Linked DNA regions of Homo sapiens: all the other regions are linked to region 1. Evidence: fine-mapped expression QTL. A gene starts in region 1. Each other region holds a variant in brackets. All regions are shown on one strand. Distances are from middle to middle.

Region 1 (5,603 bases):
GCACTACAACCTTGGCCAGCTGCCTTGCAAAGAAAGACAAGTGATCGGTCACAAGGGAAACCAGATCAGGGAGAGATGGATCCGGTGAACCTATCATCCCTACTACAAACATGTGTTCAGCTGGTAGCAGATCAGTAACATCTTCTCCAGGAGTAAAGGAGAATTTATTTACATGCTCATTACATATGCAGAGTTGTGACCAAATTGCTGCAGGTGACAGGTCCAAGTTCCTATAAGGATGTCCTATGGCTTCATACCAGACTTTGTTCCGGACTTCATCTCTTAAGTGCTGTCATTTCTTCTGTACAAGCTATGGTTACTTTGGTTTCTTTTCTTCCTCTTAGACAGCAGATTCCAGCTATTATCACATAGCTTCCTCATTTATACTAGAGTAAACCATTATTATGGATGTAAGAAAATGGGTTTCATAAGTGAACCCACTGTGAAGGTAGCCAGGACAGGTGTATTAGTCCGTTTTCATGCTGCTAATAAAGACATAACCAAGACAGGGTAATTTATAAAGGAAAGAGTTTTAATGGACTCAGTTCCACATGGCTGGGGAGGCCTCACAATCATGGCGGAAGATGAAGGAAGAGCAAAGGGGCTTCTTACACAGTGGCAGGCAAAAGAGCTTGTGTAGGGGAACTCCCATTTATAAAGCCATCAGATCTCATGAGACTTATTCACTACCATAAGAACAGTACGGGTGAAACCGCGCCCATGATTCAATTATCCCCACCTGGCCCTGCCCTTGACAGGTGGGAATTATTACAATAAAGTGAGAGGTGGGTGGGGACACAGCCAAACTATATCAACAGGTCATGTACGTAAGCTGCTTAATATTTATTGAGCAGCTACACTGTGGACTGAATCAAATAGAATATGAGGATACATATGTGAAAAAATATTATTTTAATAGCTGGCTCCAGAGTTCCTCTTGGGAAGTTACTTTGTGTAGGAAAAAACTTTGGTAAACAGTTTAGGAATGGCAGGTAGCTATGAAGGCACAGATTAGGAGATGGAAATAAAAGTATTGTATAAAGAGAGGAGAGGAGGGGAGAGATGGGACCAGAAAGATGGTACAATAGTGGGAGGTTACAGGTTATGATGAAAAAATGGGGGTAGGTGGTAGGTGGATAAAAATATCATGGGAGGAACTGAAGGACTTTTAAGAGCAGGGATTTCTAATTTTAGGTTTTTTGCATCCTTAATTTAAAACCACTTATCTGCTCCAAACCTTCTAAAGAGTTGGCTATAGAAACAACCAAAGAAAAGGGGCTGATTTCGAAATTATGTGTCAGCAGGAGTAGAGAGAGGAGAGTTGTAAGAGGTGATATGTGGAGAGGTCTAAGTGTTCAGGAAAAGCAAGAACTGAGAGCCAGAAGTGACGGTGCAATCCTTGAGAGGACATTGGCCGTGGGGAACACCACAAGGTGGATAAGGGACTCAGTCAAGTTCAAGAAAATCTCTGTGGTAGGATGACTCAGCTGGATTACAGGAGCCATTTTTGTTATTTTCAACCATAATTTTTCAGGAGATATTCATTACTAGAAAATGACAAGGTCACGAATTCACTCCCCTTCCTCTTTTTTTCTATTAAATTTCTGGGCCTCAGTTTTCCCATCTATAAAATCTAGAGATTGGGCCTAGAATATCTCTGTAGTTTCCATTAGAGTCTATAGCTCTAATAATAATAACAACACATTTTTATGTTCTCTTTTGAGGTAAATTTACATGCAGTGAAATGTACAAATCTTAAATGTCCCATTCCAAGAGTTTTGACAAGTGCATATACTTCTGTAACCGAAACTCTTAGCTATAGAATTTTTTCATCACTACAAAAAATTCTCTCAAACTCCTCCCCGACAGCCAACCACTATTCTGACTTTTATCACTATTGATTAAATAATTAATATTTAATAGCTATTGTTAAATGCTAAGCTTTGTTTTATAGAGCTTCATCAGTATTAATGCGTGTATTTCTTACAAGAGTTGCAAGATGGATATCTCCATTTTTGCAGATCAAAACGTTAAGAGGTGAGAAAGGCGCCTCTGGTCATCAGCTACCAAGCACAGGGGCAGGACGTGAACTAAGAATTCGTTTTAGAAGCCCACGCTCTTAACCTGTTTATCCTAGAGTCCACAAACGATTGCCAAGAAACAGCATAAATCCAAATTCAGTCGAAAGCAATGCCATTTGCAAATTCTAAAACCTCCTGAATAATCCTAAAGGCCATATGCATTCCATCTTATCGAAGGATTCCCTTCTATCCCCCTCCCCAGAGAATGGAGAAAGGGGGTGCGAAAGACTTCAATTCGGTTTGACTGGAGAAAAACACAGAGGTGGCGTAGGATCCACACATCCCTTGGGGGCAGACCCAGCGGCGGACGCCTGGACAGGCGGCGGGAAAGGCGCTGCGACGCCCCGGGTGCCCCCTCCTTCGACGCCACTGGCATCACCTCCGAAAGCAGCAGGCACGAAGGTGCCCTGCCACGGGGGCTGGACGCAGTGGAGGCAGGCTCATCAAGCACGACCAGAGCTCAGTCGGCCACACGTCCTCCTCAATGTCACTGTCTCCCTGCTCTCCCACCCCGCGCCGCTGCACCTCCCTCCCCCCGGCAACCTGGGCGGGAGTCCCAAGCTCCGCCCCAGAGCGGACTCACAGCCCCCGCGCTCCCTCCCGCGCTGCGCCCACCGCGCGGCCGCGGCTGCCATGGCAACACTACGCCGCCGCCGCCTTTTCACGCACGTCGCGAGCTAACGGACTCGGCGGCGGCGGCGGCGGCGGCCTGCGCCCCACCCGCACCCCATCTGGACCGCATCGCTGAATGTGCCCGGACCTGCGCCTTCTGGGTAATGAATCCGAGAGAAAGGGGCGAGGGCGAGACAGCAGGTGGTGGAGGGCTCTAGCCAACAGCCCCTCTCGGCCTCCCACTGCCGGAGACGCCAGGGCAGTGGGCTGCGGGGTTCCTCGGGCGCTGGCTCCCGTGCGGGGACGGGGAGGGGCGCGGGAGCGCCAGGCTCGCGGTGCATCATGGGAATTGTAGTTCAGCGACTCCTCGGGCTCGCGGTCTTGGTGGGGTAGCTCGGACTGGCGAACTACAAAGCCCGGCGGCCCCGACCGCCGGGAAAGACCGATAAACTTTGAGCGGACCGGGACAGAAAAAAAAATCTCTCTTTGTCTTGAGGGGGCTGTTGAGTGGTCGCGGACCTGGGCTCTGTGCGTTGGGAAAGGGAAGTGGAGGTGAGCCTCGGGCTTCCCGCCCTGTAGCTGGGCCCGCCCCAGTTGCAGCGCTCAGCCCCACCCCGGCTGGGCCACCGCCCTGCACAGTCTCAGGGATGAGCAGCCGCCCAAGCTGCAGGGCCTCGGGTCTTCGGCGCCTCTGACCCTCGCAGGTTGCTGCCTTTCGGTGCAGAACCGTATGTATGTCACACATTGGATGTGAGACCTGAGAAACCGTGTTTTAACAGGTTTTTCTCCTTTCCTGGATACGTTTATTTCTGGGTTAGTCATGTTTGTTTTAAAGTAGCTCAGAGGTGTTTGCATATTAAACCCATCAATTGGTAATTACTCAAAGGGCAGTAATGTTTAAAGGTTAAGTGTGGAAATAGATAAAAAGATGTCATTGCGATTATATGGTGGTATCTGGCATTTTTAACTTTTTGCATTTTTGAATTTTATTTCTTGAGGTTCAAGGTTGTGAAATGAGTGCTCCACCCCACCCCCCCCTTGCCAGCCTGAACACTGCCTACACATATTTTGATTAGTTCAGCTTTAAATTACTAGTAACTTTTAAAAACAGACTTTTTTAGCAGTAGGCAGCAATAATTCTTTGATTATTCCAGTGTTATTCAGAATTTCTCAGCATGTTTTCGGAAGGAAAAATACCATGTTTTAATTATTTAGTTAATTCTTTATATATTTTTTATGTTCAGGAGTACACTTGAGTCCTTAGAGTTGACTCAAAGACTTGCTGGTAAAGGAAGCTGACACAGATTTACGAAACCTTCCTTGACGACCCTTTAAAATTTTTTAATAGGTAGATAACCATCCTAGAAATTTGCTGCTTTATGGAGTAAGTTGGAGAATTGTTGATATTATTGTGAGTTTGTGTGTGTGTGTGTTTAAAAACAAAAAGACCACAAATCCTATAAAACTTTCTCTTAATTAAAATGAAGTTGACCTGTGTAAATTTTACTTGAGGTTGCAATTTTGTACAAGGAGGAGATGGAAAGTAGGTTTAGTAAGACAGGTAGAAAACAAAATTGAGGCCTTATGTGATACAACATAAGGTTTGAAGTATTTTATTTATTCATTCAAAATGTGTTAGGAACCTATGTGCCAGGCATTATGCCAGGTGGTGAGAATAAAGAGATGAAAAAAGATAGTCTGTATCCTGCATGGGCAGTCTTGTCATCACAGTAGTGTGGTAGAGATAAGTGCAAGTTGCTCTAGGAGCCCAGAGGAAATAATCACATAACAGTAACATTTATTGAATATGTCAGGTGCTGTGAGGAGTATTTTGCATGCAACTCCTTACTTAATCCTCAAAACAGTTGGTGAAGTAGTTACTGATTTTTAGAGATGAGGAAACAGGCTTTAGAGGCCTTGCTCAAAATCATAGCTGGTAACGTGTGAACCTGGGATTTCAGCCCAGGTGGGTCTGGTCCTGATCTCAAGCACTGACCATTCTCTGTCATTTAGTAGAAAGATCCTGACTCTGTCTAAGGAAGTCAGGGGAGGCCTTCAGTGTGATTTGACTTTTAACTTGTGTTAAAATAGTTGAATAAGCTTTCACTGGAGTGATGATGAGGAAAGTCATTCTAGGACAAATGGATGGCACAAAATAAGCAAAGGATAGATTGAAGAATCAGTATTTTGTATTTGGGAAACGCTAGGTAGTTCTGAATGACTGGATCCCAGAATACTTGCAATTAGTGGGTGAGGCCAGATCTTAAAGTACTTGGCACCATATTCAGAGTTTAGAATTTTTCTTGATATAGGGCAGTCATTGAAGAATTTTAGCTAGAGTGGTGGTGGCGTCAGATTTGTATTTTAGAAAGATAACTCCAGCCCCAGTGTAGAGAATGGACCTGGGAGGGGAAACATTACAGGTAGTAGAAAAGCCAGTTGTATAATAGAAAAAAACAAAGTCCAGTAGAGAAGTGAAGAGAGTCTGAATTAAGCATTTGGAGTTACAGAAAGACATGGATTCAAGGAATATTTAAGAGATAAAATTGATATGACTTGATAAGAGTTTGGATGTTGGGAGTTAGATTTGGAACTCTTAGCTGATTGATTCCTCAGTTTCTGGCTAGCATGACTGAGGTAATAGTGAATCCGTTGATTGAGATGAGGAGGAGCTGGTTTTTATTGGGGTGAAATATAAAGATATTAGTTGAGTTTTGAGCATTTGTTAGAGGTTCCTATGGGATATTCAGGTGGAGGTGCATTTTAGTCTGGAGTTCAGAGAGAGCAGGCTGGAGTTAGAAGTTTGCATATAGATAAGTAATTAAAGCTACAAGGGAGAATGGACCAGCTCACATTGGAGTAATGAGTAGAAAAGAAAAAGGAAGAGGTTTGGATATGGAACTCTCATTT
Region 2 (5,603 bases), 100 kb after region 1:
CACACACACACAGTCTTTATTGCAGAAGACAGTGTGTTGCCTTACCAGAATGAGTGCTTGGATTACAGGCGTGAGCCACTGTGCCCAGCCCTAACTTTTAATGTACATCACACACACACTCACACTCACATACACACACACACACACACTCTGACTGTCTTTATTGCAGAAGACAGTGTGTTGCCTTACCCAGAATGAGATTGAATTGTTTTGCTTCGTTTTGTTTTGTTATTCAGTGTTGCGGTAGCAGATGCATTATCAAAGGAAAAATATTTGGCTCCTTTAATTCCTCTGAAAACATGAGTATTTTGAGTTCTGCAGCACAATGACTGTAGGACTAAGCTAAGTCTGCTTTGCAGATATCTGATCAGATAGTCCCTTCATTCTGTAGACGTGTATTGGTTGGTCCAAGACACAGTGAGTAGGAGCTCTGTGGACCAAGACAAAGCTGGACTAGAGAGTACAGTTCAAACTTGGCAGTTTCTCTAACGACTCTGTATAGCTTCTGGCTTCTACTACTGAAACAAGAGTTTAGATCACTGATGGAGAGGCATAGTAATCTGTTTGTGCTTTGGAAAAATATATAAAAGTTTTTTTCCCCTATTTTTTGCACTTTAAATCTGTTTTGAAATTAGAACTGATATACATTTATTTGAATAATGTGTAACTATTATGGATCTATTTTAATGAACAATTTTTACCATTTCCCAAGCTGCCTGTTTATTATAAGCATGACATGTTTACTATAAACCTTTTGCCCCCATAATTTCTTTTTTTAAAGGAAATTAATATTAGTAAAATAAACACCTCTTTAATGGAAGCTGCAACCTTCTAGTGATCCAAGTAGACAATAGATGGTGGCATCACAGACTTTATCTACACACTTTCGGGTCTGACCACTACCTCCCACAATACCTAGCCATTTTGGAAGGGGAAAACATGCGGTGGTCTAGCTGTATAGCTCAGGGCTTAATTTCAGCTTCTGAGATTGTGATGTCATATTTCACTCTCAAAACATAGGCTGAAAGCACGAATTACTCAAAAAGTAAGCAAACCAATACCTGGTGAATCTATGGACAGTCATACACATACATCAGGGGAAAATGTGTGTGTACAACCCAAATTTACAGTATGATTGTCATTCTTTGACTTTGTTTTGTATAGCCTGACTCTGTTGAACATGAAATTATTAGTACTCTAGGTTTTGGACAGCTTGAGTTCATTTGAATTCCTTCCTTAGGAATAAGTTTTTATATACACTGCTAAATGTGTGATGAGAATCATAAAACACTAACCAGCTGAGGTAGCTGTGATTCACTTTCCCCCCACCCTAACTTGAGATAAAATGAAGGACTAGGCAAGTATTTCATGTTGTGTGAGTGGACTTCGGTTCCTTCAGTATTGTCTAGGTTATTGAGTCTTTCTTTGCCTAATAGTGGATTCCCACTCTTAAGATAACTTTTATTAGTGATAAATCAGTTTAGGGTATATTCTGTATGACAGGCATAAAATGTTAAGGGTGAATGCTGGCCTTTTCCAAGAAAAGGCCACCTTAACTTGTATGAGGAAAAAATCCTAACTATTCTCTTTTTTGTATCTTTTTTTCCGTAACTGTTTTGATTGTATATTTTAAAGAAACCACTTAATTTGTGATGCACGTAATATTTGTGTGAACCTGAGAATATGTCACAATAGGAAAAAGCAGAAATTATACTTAGGGGACATGTTAGGGGGGTAAAAATATTTAAGCCTCGAATGTTTTACTGTCATCTCCACTAACTATTTTTACAGAAAAAGCTAAAAACTCTGTTGTAATTATTGTAAGTTTACTTATTTATACTTTTAAATTAGGCTTTTCATACTTAAATTTTTTTGACATTTGCTTTTAATATTTGTTTCTTAATGTGGAAATTGTGTATTTTAATAATCAAATTATTAGGATAATAGATATATTTTTAAACATTCACCTCATTAACAAATAGATCTTTGAATTTTTATTAGGTTTTTTGGCTCCAGACAACTGTTTAGCTTTAATGATATTTCTAAATTCCCAGTGACTTATTAATAAAAACAGGAAAAATATTTAGGTAATGTCATAAAATTTATTTTACCTTTCTCATTTTCTGAGAAAATAAATGAAAAAAACCCTAGATATTGCTTTATTACCAACAGTGTGTAGGTTTTTGTACATATGGAAATTTGACACAAAAAAATAGGGAATTTGTATAGAGAAGTTTCCCTCTTATAAAAGGACTCCCATTTGATTGTTCGAAACTATAAAATGCACTTTTACTTTACCATATCTGAAATGACAAAATATCGCCCTTTGGAAAACCTGACTCTTTGCACGTGTAATTCCCAGAGTCTACCTCAGTTAACCAGGCTTAGTTTTAGGCAGGAATGAATTGAATTAAATTCAGTTCATCATCTATGCAGATTTGTTTCTTTTAAGCACATCCTTCCCTCCTGCTGTTGCCCTCCTCCCATTAACTTTTCTTTTTAATCTTGAAATTGTTTAAAATATTCCATCTTTCTTTCTCTAGCAAAGTGTTTGTATTCCAAATAAGGCCTCTGTGAAATGTCTGAATTACTTTTCCCGTCTTTGTTATGGTCAGCTTCATTATTTGGATGTATTGCATTCAAAGCAGCAGTTCCAAACATAACACACATCTATTTTCTTAGAGTTTTGTAAATACA[A/G]ACTAACCTGATGACATTAAAAATTGTGGATCCTACATGTTCCTATGTTCATTCTCTAAAAACCTGAGTAACTTTATGAAAACACACAAACCTGGAAAAACATCACATTTTTGTCACATTTTTACTGACAAATGTATATTCATATGATGGTACGGCAGCAGGGAGTGGCCCCCAGTTAACATGGCTGTGAGTGGACACAGTGTCTCGCAGGATCACTGCATGTTATGATGGCTTGTAAGTGCGTTGTTAAGACTTTTGTTTCAGTGTTTGTCTCCCAGTATTTGAACCTAATTTAAAGAAAAAGACGTTTCCAAGTTGTATTTATTAAATGTGTTTTTCCTTACCTTTTGTGCTGCTACTTTGCTAATCTCATTAGCTTAGCTGTGTTTGTGCATAGGTTATATTTGGTAATAAATTTATAGAGTGTTGGTTGTCATCGCTTTCTTTGTGGTTCATTTTGACCTATAGTCACGGGTGCACTTCTTGCCACCAGTGGGAGCAACAAACCCCTCACTAGTAAGGGATGGCTTTCCCCAGATTTTTGTTCTCATAAAATCACATATTATAAACCTGACATTTTGTATTTGCTGTGCTTATGCCAATAATTTCAAGGTTGATGCAGGTAAGATGTGTGTTTTTTCAGTTAATTCCAACTGGCATAATCAATACACTTGTCTTATTTGTGTAGCACCATTGCAAAGTAGATGTTCCATATGGTGCATTTTCTAGATGACTAAGTCTTACTTTATGACCTCCTCCAAACAATTTTTTTAGTTAATAGACTTTATTTTTTTTAGAGCAGTTTTATGTTTACAGAAAAATTGAGCAGAAAATTTGGAGCTCCCATTTACTTACAACCCCCGCCCCAGTTTCTCCTCTTACTAACATCTTACATTAGTGTGGTATATTTGTTATAATTGATCAACTGATGTTGATGCATTATTATTCAGTAATTGACAGTAGTTGACATTAGGGTTCACTTTGTGTTATACACTTTTATGGGTTTTGACAAAAGCATAATGTCATGTATCCATCTTTACAACAGCAGACAAAATCGTTTCACTGCTTAAAAATTCCCTGTGTTCCACCTATTCATTTTTCCCTCGCCTCCCAATTCCTGGCAACCACTGAGCCTTTTAGTGACTCTCTAGTTTTGTCTTTTCCAGAATGTCATATAGTTGGAATCGTATGTAGCTGTTTCAGACAGGCTTCTTTTACTTAGCAGTATGCATTTAAGTTTCCATGTCTTCCTGTAGCACGATAGCTCATTTCTTTTTAGCACTGAATAACACTCCATTGTCTGGATGTACCACAATTTGTTTATCCATTCACCTACTCAAGGACATCTTGTTTGCATCCAAGTTTTAGCGATTATGAGTAAAACTGCTATAAACATTCATGTGCAGGTTTTTGCAAGTGCATAAGTTTTCAACTTGAGTAAATACGAATGTGATTGCCAGAACGTATGGTAAGAGTATGTATAGTTTTATAAGAAGCTACCAGACTATCTTCCAAAGTGGCTGTACCGTTACATATTCCCACTTGCAATGGATAAAGGTTTCTGTTGCTCCACATCCTCATCAGCATGTGGTAGTGTCGGTAGTTTGGGTTTTGCCATTCTAATAGCAATAATGAGGCTAACAAGCCTAACAGCTGTTTCACTAGGTTCACTGATAGGTGTGTAACGGTACCTCATTGTTTCCATTGCAGTTTCCAGATGATGTGGAACATTTTTTCACATGCTTATCAATTTGAAACTTTGCTAAAGCATATCACATTTGTTCCTTGAGTTTGTAAACTGAAGAATTGGAACTTACCCTTTTCTTTAGGATTCAGAGTTGTTATGAGGTCAGTCAGTCCCTTGTTTTATGCCACTCTCTGCAGTTAGTGGAGGGGTAGCACAGCTTTTTTTTTTCTTTAAAGCTCTCTCACTGACTGGTCTTTGAATTTTGATGTTTGCTTTTATAACATTTCCACTGGTCTCTTATCAGCCTTTCTTCCTCTTCAGTGTCCTATTTCTAGTCTTCAGTGAACCTAGAGAAATAGTTGTTAGGCTTGTTAGCATCATGTGTAAATGAGTACTGCAGTTTAGGGATGAGGAGTGGTAGGGAGGTCTATTCTTTGGGCTCTAGTGCTGTGTGTCGTTTCTCTGGGCTATCCGCGGCCTTTTTACCTCTATCTTTGGATCCCAGAAGTGCTCCTGGTGGACCAAGTGTGAAGTAGATATTTTTGCATAATTATGCTGCCATGCAGTTGTGTAATATTTATAACTGGAAGGGACCTAGCAACAATTTAATGCCATGGCCCCAGCCGTAATTTTCTTCCTGTGGCTTTAAGTGAGGTTTCGGTCTCTTGGGGGGTATAAAGAAAAAGAATTAGGTTAAGTGGGACAAAGACAGGAGACATTTGTGGCTAGAGCCCTCCCACTCTCCCTGCAGTCCTTTCTCCAGTGCATATGACCAGTGCCACCTGTGACTGACCTGGCTCCCATGGCAGAGCATGGCACAGTGTTGGAGTGTTTGCCCAGAGATGCCAGGAATTTAACTAGAAATCGTGAGGGAAGATGGAAGCATTGCCTGGCTCCGTCTCTTCCCAGCATCAGCTGCTACCTTTCTAATGATAAGCAGAAAGGCAGGGTGGGCTCAGGTCTCACCTGGCTGGTTCCAACAACTGATGCCCCAAGGCTGGAGGCTGGTACTCAGGTGCTCCTCCCCCTCCCTGGCTGGATGTCACCACTTCAACTGCACCTGGCCAGGCAGACGTGGGGCTTCACCTGGGCATTCCTCTGGCTCCTGCTACACCCAGAACAGGGCAGAAAGGGATCAGGGGAGAGAGCACATGTGCTTGGTGGTTACTTCTTATCCTTTTTACAATCAGAAAAGCTTGATGGGCAACTCTTTCCTAGT
Region 3 (5,603 bases), 110 kb after region 1:
GAACAAAGTTAATTCTGAATGTTCAAAATACCATGGCCACACCATCTGAACACACCTAATCTCGTCTGAATATTCAAAACGTCTGTCAATTACTACATCTTAAATAATTTTTTAAACAAATAACCATGGTATGACCACTGTATTCCATAACAAAAATCCTAAACTATAGTGTTAGTAATTATTACGTAATTAGATGTGGATGAATTGAACTTCATTTGGGTTTTGTAAAATACCTCAAGCTATTTTCCAAACATTTTGAAATATGTTTTGTAACATTTCTCAAATATACTTTACTAAACATATTTCCTTTAATTTTTAAATCCTTTTTAAAGTGTTTGTTTAAGGGGAAATTTAATCCATATGTTTCTGATTCATTTACACTTATCAAAGTTGTTTCTTAAGAAGAATTAGCTTTCTAAGAAGCCTGAGGAACTCTTCTCATGAATTCTGTTAGCCCTTAAAAGCCTTTTTCCAATCAAAACTTTTTTCCCCAAAGATAAATAAATGTGGATGAAATGTTTTAGTTTGGTTTGCAATACAAAGCCCATATTTCAAAATCTAACCTAGTTGTGAATTTAGGATAATAAACTATTCTGCCTTTACCATAAGAATTCACCTCATTTGTTGCTCTTCAAAGCAACTAACTGCAAAGGGTTTGCAATAACTGTGCTCTCTTGAAAACGCAGAACACTGACATTCCATACTGTGTTCTCAAATTCATAGCAAAGGTGACAGAGGTGGGCGGCTGAGCAAACATATTAAACTAAGTCAGCTAGTTATTGGGGATCTACCATGTATGCCAAATATGTATACAGTACATAGTCACACATATACATACATGTGAAAATACTCATTTAAGGTTTGTGTGTGTTTACCTGTGCTTACAAATTTTAACAAAATTTATTTTGTATTTTGTATTAATTATTCTGAAGTGACTACAATTGTTCTCATCTCTATTTAGAAATATTTTTCGCCTGAGATTTAGTTCAACACGTTTCTGTTGCCTAGCAGTAGGTTTTTGAGAATAGCTTTTTGTATAGCCTTAATTGAACAGGTTGATTGCATGAAATCTTCTTAGCAAAAGTAAAGTCATCACAGTGAAGGTAAAAGGAACTATGTTGACAACTAATTGGATAGAATGTCATAAACCGCAGTGGATCTGGAAGAGATTTGCAGAAACGTAGCAACAAAAGAAGGGAGTTTGTTCAAGGCAGCTAGAAACCGCATTCAGAAATATTCGTGTTAAAAGAAAGGCACCATTTTCCTTGGTTCTCATTAGGGAATTGTGTAAAATACATATTTGTTCATCACAAGAAATAATCAGTTCCTATTTTTAGTGGAAACTTTTTCCCTGAGTTGTTTAGTATGGGATTATTAGACAATAAAAACATCTTTTGTGTACTTTTCAAAATATAAACTAATTTCTTACATATTTCATTAGTTCGCGCCATAGATGAATTCTTAGTATTTTAGGAAAAAACTTTCATGGTAATTCCTTTTTAAAACCAGCACTTAAAATTGTCTTTATTTAAATCAAAATGCAAAACCTCTTGCATTAAGGGAGACTTTTACCTTTTACTTTGTATTTTTTCATATGATAATTATTTACTTTGTAAAAGAAATATAAAATTATAAAAAATTTTTAAAGCAATATTTGTAGACATCAAATCAGTGTCTGCCCTTCTGTCTCCCAGAAGCCCTTGGCCTAAGTAAGAGTCAATCATAGCTCTTGACCCCATTTCATTTGACCCATAGGGCAGGATTGTGTTGACCACTGTCACTGTCACTCTCACCTAGGACAGTGCTCTTCAGGCTTTGTTAACAATAAAGTGTGTGTGAGTTACACACTGTTACTATGTTGGTAGTTTAAGGATACTTGTAAATTATAGTAGTGCTTGTATATAATTTATAAAAATCCATGAAATGTAGAAATATGGAAGACTATAATGTGAAGACACTGAAAAGTAATCTTACTGCTACAAAATCCTTCCAAAAAATAGGAGTAATATTTTCATTGAGAGCCATGACATTAAATATACTTTATTTTTTTTTAAATCTTAGGATAACAATTTAGGGACAATGATTTCATTTTTATTTCAATGCTTAGTTTTAATGACTGTTACAGCTAAAAGTGTAACTTCACAAAGGTGTGTAGATCCAAGTGGAAGAAACAGATTATTGGCTGCAATCTGAAGTAATGAGCTTCATTTTAAAATCATGCCCACTAAGCAGAAGTGTTTATTTGGCTATTTGCGTCTTTCTTGATGTCAGTTCTTGCAAATTAATTGAAAGGTTGCATTTTATGTTGAATGTTCAGAACCTATTGCACCTCTTCATTTGGAAGATTTTAAAACAAACAGGACAATTATTTTAAGTTGCACATATTAGAGTTCTTAAAAAAGAGGCTCAGTGTTTTTGACAACAAAATCATGTAACAATGGAAAAACATTTCCCAACATCACTTTTCTT[T/C]ATGTAACATGGATTTCTTTCATATAGTAATTATTTTCTCATCCCTTTTTTAAAAAAAGAATAAAGTTGTAGAGTAGAGGAAGTAAGCATTTCATTTAACCTAAATATGTATATGAGCCTGTTTCTGTGCATACAGCAAAAATTTAATAAAACAATAGCTTTGCCTTTATTATATATGATACATTCTGACATTTTCTAATTGGTTTCATTTTGTAAAATTCCTGGACCTGCCCCAGGAAATTGATTTCATTACTTGTTAATGGTGGACAGCTTGCAATTTCAGACCTCCTCCTGGACTGCAGGGTGCCACTGGCTGCAGCCCTGGCCCTCTCCCAGCTTCCTCTGTGCGGATTACTCAGTGACGCATTTGATGAGTGGCCTGGTGAGCAGCAGCAGCCATGCCTGGTTTCCTGGCCACCTGGGGGCTCATCCTTCATGCTATTCCTGACAGGCCATTGTGAGTCTCTTTATCGTTTGAACCTGGCCAATCAGGTTCTCAGGGTCAGGCCCTGGGCATCTGCCCTCTCTCTGCCTTCCTCCCTAACCCTCAAATGCCTGGGGATTCTAACTATCCCAGTGGTGGTTTTCTTGATTTTGATCAGTCTAGACATGATAGTTCTTGAAAGATTTAAGACACGCTTAATTTCTGTTGAGTTTTTATTTCTCCTCAGTCTTAAAATTATTCCTGACTTCTAGATATGATATGAATATGTCACTGTTCATTCCTTTTTAAAAAGTCAGCAGTGATCCCTGTGCCAGTGTCAAAAACAGTTTCTCCATCTGATGTTAAAAACATCCCCTGGGGAAGGACCAGCTCACTGTGCTTCTTGTGCTAGTATAGGACATTTAGATAGCTGCCAGCTCCCTAGGGCAACACAGCTGCTTGGTGACCTCTCTTTGTTCCTGGAAAAGGAATAGGGCTCTTCAGTTATAGTACATGGTATTGGAATCGTTCAAGGGAGGACCAAGAGAGGAACAGAGACTCTTAGTCACTAACAGGAAAGTGTTAAGGTTTGAGAGTCAGACTGGAAGGAAGAATCAAGGAAGGAGAGGATCGAGTTTTCAAGGGAAAGGAATCCTTATGTGTTCTGCTGTGAGTGGGTGAAGAAGGTTGACAGAAGCCACAAATAGTTGGTCTTATTTGGACTGTGCCTCCTGTGGCCAAGGCACTGTTCCTGCTATTTGGCTAGATACTTATTGGCTATTTAAAACAGGCCTCTTTTGGATCATGAGATGTATTTGGGTATTGTGAGAACTTCAAGTCTGCAGTCAGAAAACAATTCTAGCCTCAGCTGTACCACTTCTAAGCTGTGGGACTTTGGGCAAGTTACTTATCCTCTCTGTGGCTGTGTTATCTCACCTCAAAATGGAGATGATAACAGGACCTTCCTTTGTAGGACCATTGGGAAGATTAAATGAGATACTGAATTTAAAGTGCTTATCACGGCACCATACAAACCCTTAATGTTAGCTGCAGTGATGTGCGAGGGCTGGTACATACCAGGCTGTCCCAAAGCCAACTGTGGAATGTTAAGGAATGTCGCAAGCCTTTCCACCGTTGATAGCTGAAACTGTAGCCGCGGTGAGAGGATTCACACATGGAAATTGGCAAACACTACACATCAGGGCTTTACCTATCCCCTATCCCCCTGGAAGAGTTAGTTTACCAGCGTATCACAGGTTAGCTCTTTTTATTTTTGTGGAGTTTTTTTCCCCACTGCAAGTAATGCGGGTCCACGTGTGTACCCTGGCTCTTTGTCGCTCCCTCTGAAAAAAGTGGATGCAGTGAGGGTAATACTCCTAAGCTTGCCAGTCGTTGTGAACAGGTCAGTCTGACTTTCAGTGAGCCATTTTTGACTCAAAGAGTGAATGGCTGTTTTGGGGTCTGCCAAAATTAGGGGCCCTTCTCTTCCCTGAACTAGACTATATACTCTGATACTTTTATCGCAGTGTTACAGAAGTCTTAGGATACTAGTAGTGGACAAAAATATTCCCCTTCCCTTTTATTCCCTGAGAAATACAGTCTGAGCTGTATCTAGGCAATACCCACACTGCCTTCAGACTTTTTCCGAAGTGGAGTTCATCAATCATCCAGGAGGCTCTGAGCCCCATGATTGGCATGGCTTACCTAGTGGCCGTGGTAGACATATGCGCATGGAGGCATTTTGCTGAGGGCTTGTGAGAGCTATTTGGCACCTTTTCCAGCAAAGGTGGGAGAGGAAGGAGGAGAAGAGGTTCTGTTCTCACCTATTTTAATACCCGAACCAAAAAATGGAAGTTGCTGGTAGCACTGAATTAGAACTCTTGCCTCATTTAGCACACTAATCATCAAAAGTCTCTATTTTCAATAGAAGCAAAGCATAATTTCTCAATAAAGAGGCACTTCAAATAGGGGATTTACAAACATTACACATTGTCTTTCCTGTTGCAGCTATGAAACATACCTTCTAGAGAAAATCACACAGATTTTGTTTACTTTGCTTAAGAATTGCAGACTAGAGTCATGATTTGTTAGTCTCATTTGCTTTTCACAAGAAAAAGCATTATATAATGTCCGAGGGTCTCAGGTTCCATAACGGGGACTTTCCCAAGGTCTTTCATAACGAAAGTTTCTGTGCAGCCCATGGGAGATTACACAGGGAGGGAGTCTGGAGACTCTCACGAGGACTTATTTTTGTCTATTCTAATTTGAATCTCATACAAGTATTTCTATAGGCCTATTATTTACACCTATATATCAGTCCAACTTACTGAATGCCAACAAATTTGAGACACAACTCCTGTCCTCAAGGAACTCATGTCCTGGTAGAGAAAGCCATGAAGCAGTCATAGGATACTGTGTGTGGTTATAACAGCATGCACCTGAGAAATGGTCTGGAGGAGGTGAGGTCAGCCACGTGCTGAAGCAAGCAGAGGTGTTTGCCAGGTGGCTAAGGAGGGAATATTAACCCAGGGGTGGGTGATGGTCCCCACCTTCCGGATGATTTACTGTATAGTTGCGTTTGCCCCTTAGCATGATTTCTTTGACAGCTGTTGATGGAGAGCTCTGTGAGGACGAGGAGCGCTCTCATTGTTGCCTCCTCCACAGGGTTTTGCAAGTTGTAGGTGCTCAAATCCCCGATGGGAAATGAGAA
Region 4 (5,603 bases), 20 kb after region 1:
TGTCTCTGGCTGCTTTTGTGCTGGAATGGCAAAGTTGAGGGGTTGTGACAGAAACCATGTGGCATTCTCATTGCTTTTGCACTGCTGTTTCTGAACTGTAATCACTGTTTTAAGTGCCATGCATATCACTGTGCTGTGACATTTTACTTTATTATCAATGCATACACATCATGTCAAAACAAGAAAAGATGAAAAAAATAGACTTGGAATGTTATACTTTTAAAGCATGCTGAAGCATGGATTATTGAGTTATGACAAGGCATTGTATTATGCAGTGATACTATAGCTGTGTTAAATACAATATACACTGATATTACCAGACTCTGCATTCATCACAATATTCCCAACTCACAGGAAAGTAATGGTCAGAAAAATGAGAAAACATAAAAAGGAATATCTTATTCCAGTAGAATTTCTTTACAAAATTAGAAAATAAAAATCAGGCTGCACCCAGAGTAAACTTCCAAGTGGCTCATTTGTTAACCAAGCAAGGAAGTCATTTATCAATAGTGAAGTAACTAAATTGTGTTGGTTACAACAGGCGCAGAATTGTGTCTGGAGAAGGTAAACTTAAGACTGTTAGTCTTTTGGCAAGAAGAGTTGCTCAAAGAATTGAGGACATCAATAATCAATTAAAAAGGCAAATTATTTTGAGTGGTTTTCCTTGGCTTTTGATGAGTTGACAGATGTTACCAATACTGCTCAGTTGTTTATTTGAAAAGTCAAGGCTGAGTTTGAAGTGTTAAATAATCTTAATGAATAGTGTGTGTAGAATAGCTAAAGATAAGAATATTTCAAAAAGTTGAGAAAACACTAATGGCATGCAACCTGAATGAAGTGTAGTCTGCTAAGATGTGTTATAACTGATGGTAGTAAAAATTTGTATAGAATAGAAAAGAATTCAGGTGGACAAATAAAGCTGTGAAAGTGTAAGAAGTTTGAAGTCTACAGTTACTTATTTTATTTCTTAGCAGGTATTTTGCAGAGAATGTTTGAATCTATCATGTAATCTTGAACCAGTAGTGTCAACATTTGCTCTTGTGGACTTAACCATTGTCAGTTCTAGGAATTTTTGTCAGAAATAGAAGCTGAATATTCTCACTTGCCCTGCTGTACAGCAATTTGATGGTTTAATAGTTGTAAGGCTTTATTGCAAACTTTTGAATTTAGAAGTGAGATTGAAATTTTTCTGAATGTGAGAAACTGCTGTCAATCTGAATATTGAACGCTGAATGGCTTTAGAAATCAATTTGTGATGCAGACTCAATAGTATTTCTTAATGAATTCAACCTAAAATTACAAGACAAAACAGTTGTTATATCAAAACTAATACTGCAGTAAAGTTATTTCAATGGCAACCACTATTCTTTGAATCACAAGTAATATCAAGTAATTTTATATAGCTTTCCATGCTGTTATAAGTTAAAGCAAAGAAGTAAGGTCTCCATTCCTACCCAGTTTGCAATAGGTATGTTTTCTGAGTTCAAACTACAGTTTCAGCAGCATTTTTTAGAACTCGATGTAAGTGCCAAGGAAATTTCCATTTAACTGTGCAGTTGAGGCACTTCTTATTTAACCTTTAATTGGAATGATTAATCTGCAAATAATGGCACGTAAATACTAAGAGTAAATCCTTTAGATGCCTTCCAAACAATGATTATGCTGAATTGAAATCATATGCTTGTGACTACTATCAGTATAAAGTAGCACCTAACCTACTTTGAAAAGTAGACATTTTCAAACATGAAATGTATTGTATTCAAGGTAAACATTAGAATGTATGAACATTTGTGATTGATTTTGATGATAGGGAATACTAACTTTGAATCCCAACTAAGTGAAATATTGTCCCTAAAAAGAGTTTCATTCTTCTCCTTAGTCAACCTGTCTTACAGAAAGTTGTACTCTGTTATTGTTTCTATAATATTTTGAATTGCATCGATAAGAATTATGGAATTTTTTGTCTCATTATATAAGTAGTTATATAATATCCTTCATTTTGTTTGTTAGCTGTCAAAGCCTAAAATATTTACTTGTTAGGTCTTTTACAGGAAAAGTTTGGCAACCCCTGATTTGTATCAGGATATTTTTATCTTTTATAGTTTTGTGTCTGTATTTGTAAGTAGGATTTATGCTTTTGTTTCACAATGACTTTAAAGGGAAATAATTTATAGAGCATCTTTGTTTCTACTGGATTTATTAATTACATATTATTCATTATAATAAGGCCATATTGTTTCGTGTTAATGTTCTAAATTTGAAGATGACACTTTGTGTGGTTGTCCTGTATTCTGTGGATAGATCCACTGGACATTGAAATTTGTTACTGTGTAAAAGTAGTTGTATTAGTCCATTCTCATGCTGCTATGAAGAAATACCTGAGACTGGGTAATTTATAAAGAAAAGAGGTTTAAGTGACTCACAGTTCTGCATGGTTGGGGAGGCCGCAGGAAACTTACAATCATGGCGGAAGGCACCTCTTCACAGGGCTGCAGGAGAGAGAATGAATGCCAGCAGGGGAAATGGCAGATGCTTATAAACCCATCAGATCTCATGAGACTCACACATTATCATGAGAACAGCATGGGGGAACCACCCCCATGATCCAGTCACCTCCATGTGCTCCTGCCCTTGACATGTGATTATTACAATTCAAGGTGAGATTTGGGTGGGAACACAGAGCCAAACCATATCATCCTGCCTGTGGCCCTTCCCAAATCTTATGTCCTCACATTGCAAATCATTCCTTTCCAACCGTCCCCCAAAGTCTTAACCCATTCCAGACTCAAAAGTCCAAATCCAAAGTCTCATCTGAGACAAGGCAAGTTCCTTCCACCTATGAGCCTGCTTCAAAAGCAAGTTAGTTACTTTCTAGATATAAGGGGAGTATAAGCATTGGGTAAATATACCTGTTCCAA[A/G]TGGGAGAAATTGGCTAAAACAAAGGGATATAGGCCATGCAGTTCTGAAATCCAATCGGGCAGTCATTAAACCTTAAACTTCCAAAATTATCTCCTTTGACTCCACGTCTGACATCCAGGTCACACTGATGTCAGAGGTAGGTTCCCATGGCCTTGGGCAGCTCCACCCCTGTGGCTTTGCAGGGTACATCCCCACCTTCTGGCTGCTTTCACAGCTGACCTTGAGTGTCTGTGGCTTTTCCAGATGCATAATGCAAGCTGTCAGTGGATCTACCATTCCGGGATCTGTAGGATGGTGGCCCTCTTCTTACAGCTCCACTAGGCAGTGCCCTAGTGGGGACTCAGTGGAAGTTCCAGCCACACATTTCCCTTCCACACTTCCCTAGCAGAGGTTCTCCATGAGGGTCCTGCCCCTGCAGCAGACTTCTGCCTGGACCTCCAGGCATTTCCATACATCCTCTGAAATCTAGGTGGAGGTTCCCAAACCTCAGTTCTCATCCTGTGCACTTGCAGGCCCAGCACCATGTGGAAGCTGCCAAAACTTGGGGCTTGTACCCTCTGAAGCCATGGCCTGAGTTGTACCTTGGCCCCTTTTAGCCATGGCTGGAGTGGCTGGGTGCAGAGCACCAAGTCCCGAGGCTGCACACAGCAGAGGGGCCCTGGACCCAGCCCAGGAAACCCATTTTTCCCTCTTAGGCCTCTGGGCTTGTGATGGGAGGGGTTGCCGACATCTCTGACATGCCCTGGAGGCATTTTCCCCATTGTCTTGGTGATTAGCTTTTGATTCCTTGTTACTTATGCAAATTTCTGCAGCTGGCTTGAATTTCTCCCCAGAAAATGGGTTTTTCTTTTCTATTGCATTGTCAGGCTACACATTTTCTAAACCTCTATTCACTGCTTCCCTTTTAAACATAAATTCCAATTCCAAACCATATCTTTGTGAATGCTTAAAACTGTATGCTTTTAAGAGCAATCCCCCCTTCCAAATCACCTCTTGAACACTTTGCTGCTTAGAAATTTATTCTGCCAGATACCATAAACACCTCTCTCAAGTTCAAAGTTCCACAAATCTCTAGGGCAGGGACAAAATGCTGCCAGTCTCTTTGCCAAAGCACAGCAAGGACAAGTTCTTCTTCATCTGCAACCACCTCAGCTTGAACTTCATTGTCCATATCACTATCATCATTTTGGTCAAAACCATTCAGCAAGTCTCTAGGAAGTTCCAGAGTTTCCCACATTTTTCTGTGTTCTTCTGAGCCCTCCAAACTGTTCCAACCTCTGCCTGCTACCCAGTTCCAAAGTCACTTCCACATTTTCAGGTATCCTTGTAGCAGCACACCACTCCTGGTACTAGTCTACTGTATTAGTCCTTTCTCACACTGCTGTGAAGAAAAACTTGAGACTGGGTAATTTATAAAGAAAAGAGGTTTAATTGACTCCCAGTTCTGCATGGCTGGGGAGGCTCAGAAAACTTAGAATCATGGGGGAAGGCACCTCTTCACAGGGCAGCAGGAGAGAGAATGCATGCCAGCAGGGGGAATACCAGATGCTTATAAAACCATCAGATCTCATGAGACTTACTCATTATCACAAGAACAGCATGGAGGAAACTGTCCCCTTGATCCGTTACCACCACGTGGTCCTGCCCTTGACACGTGGTGATTATTACAATTTAAGGTGAGATTTGGGTGGGGACACAGAGCCAACCCGTATTAGTAGTGTACTATTTGTTGCAGTGTGATTCTCAAGTAATACAACTCTGCCTTCATGGAACCTTATAAGAGGAAAATAACATGCCAAACACATAAACATTTGTTTTTAAAAATGTGTTGGAGTCCTTTGAAATGCCTAGAACTAGTGATGGTTAATTTTCAGGAAGAATTTTTGAGTCCCTGAAGAACAGATAAGAGATTGAGAGTCAGAGTAGAAGAGTCAGGCTCCCCAAACCAAAGTTTAATTCCCTGAAGAAGGCATAGAGTAGTATTTTGATTTTCTTCTTTATGTGTATTCATTGGTTTACTGTTCCTGGAAATCAGAAGGCAATTTTGACACTTTCTCAGGATATCATTCTCCTGTAACTCTGGACTTGCTATTCTTTTTAGTCTTGGGAGGAAAGTATCTTTGCATAGAAGCCTTGGATGATTCTAGGAGACTTTTGGAAAGCCTGGAAGAAAAGCCAGAATTACTGGACTGGAGAGCTTTGGTGGAAGCCAGAAATCTAGAGGGTATTCTAACTAACATCTTATAGAAAGGAAAATAACAATAGTTATTTGCATGGCCAAAAAGATATAGAGAATGATGGGGTCTTAGAAGATTACAAATTGGGGTTCAGAGAGTGTAATTTATAGGTGTTTGCTTAGATTTAAGTTTGAGGCAATTACATGAGTATAAATGGTACATGGACAACTATAGACTGTTCTTTAAAATGTATTCTTTAAGTATAACTTTTTATTCTTGGGGCCAAGAAGTTTTAGTGATAACTAGTTTTTATAGTTTCAACTGACTTCAGTAGAAAATATATTCATATATTTATGTGATATTCATATTTTTTATATTGTCAAGAATAAATTGAATAAAAAAAAATTTCATCTGTTATTGCAGCCTATGGTAATTATAAAGGAATAAGGAAAACTAGTGTCCGGTTTTATGTACCTGTAAGTAAATCAGTAGTTCAGAGCTGTGTAA

Which allele goes with the higher level. Alleles are on the strand shown, and positions count from the first base shown. SD is a standard deviation of normalised expression in the study named. Not every link is listed here.
In carriers of allele T in region 3, the expression in fibroblasts of the gene that starts at base 2,634 in region 1 tends to be higher than with C alone (small effect, 0.15 SD a copy in GTEx).
For the expression in aorta of the gene that starts at base 2,634 in region 1, allele G in region 4 goes with a higher level than allele A (moderate effect, 0.45 SD a copy in GTEx).

The links. PIP is the estimated chance that this variant, and not a neighbour inherited with it, causes the effect. A credible set is the group of variants that fine-mapping cannot tell apart.
Region 2: its variant is the best candidate, but not a certain one, in a credible set for the expression of KATNAL1 in iPS cells (iPSCORE, PIP 0.90).
Region 3: its variant is the best candidate, but not a certain one, in a credible set for the expression of KATNAL1 in fibroblasts (GTEx, PIP 0.87).
Region 4: its variant is the best candidate, but not a certain one, in a credible set for the expression of KATNAL1 in aorta (GTEx, PIP 0.76).

The regions. Positions count from the first base shown.
Region 1 is chr13:30,304,582-30,310,184 of GRCh38, reverse strand. KATNAL1 (katanin catalytic subunit A1 like 1) reads left to right here and starts at 2,634. Exons shown (of 11, transcript NM_032116.5): 1 at 2,634-2,854. RefSeq lists silencers at 2,630-2,859, 2,890-2,999.
Region 2 is chr13:30,200,160-30,205,762 of GRCh38, reverse strand. KATNAL1 (katanin catalytic subunit A1 like 1) reads left to right here. Exons shown (of 11, transcript NM_032116.5): 11 at 1-3,133. Among named protein-coding and RNA genes, the nearest start is that of LINC00385, 49 kb to the right of the region's middle. RefSeq lists a silencer at 1,069-1,118. The variant A/G (reference allele first, on the strand shown) is at 2,698.
Region 3 is chr13:30,193,490-30,199,092 of GRCh38, reverse strand. No RefSeq gene overlaps it. Among named protein-coding and RNA genes, the nearest start is that of LINC00385, 43 kb to the right of the region's middle. The variant T/C (reference allele first, on the strand shown) is at 2,470.
Region 4 is chr13:30,284,300-30,289,902 of GRCh38, reverse strand. The region is part of intron 1 of KATNAL1 (katanin catalytic subunit A1 like 1); the gene reads left to right. Among named protein-coding and RNA genes, the nearest start is that of KATNAL1, 20 kb to the left of the region's middle. RefSeq lists an enhancer at 3,402-4,024. The variant A/G (reference allele first, on the strand shown) is at 2,919.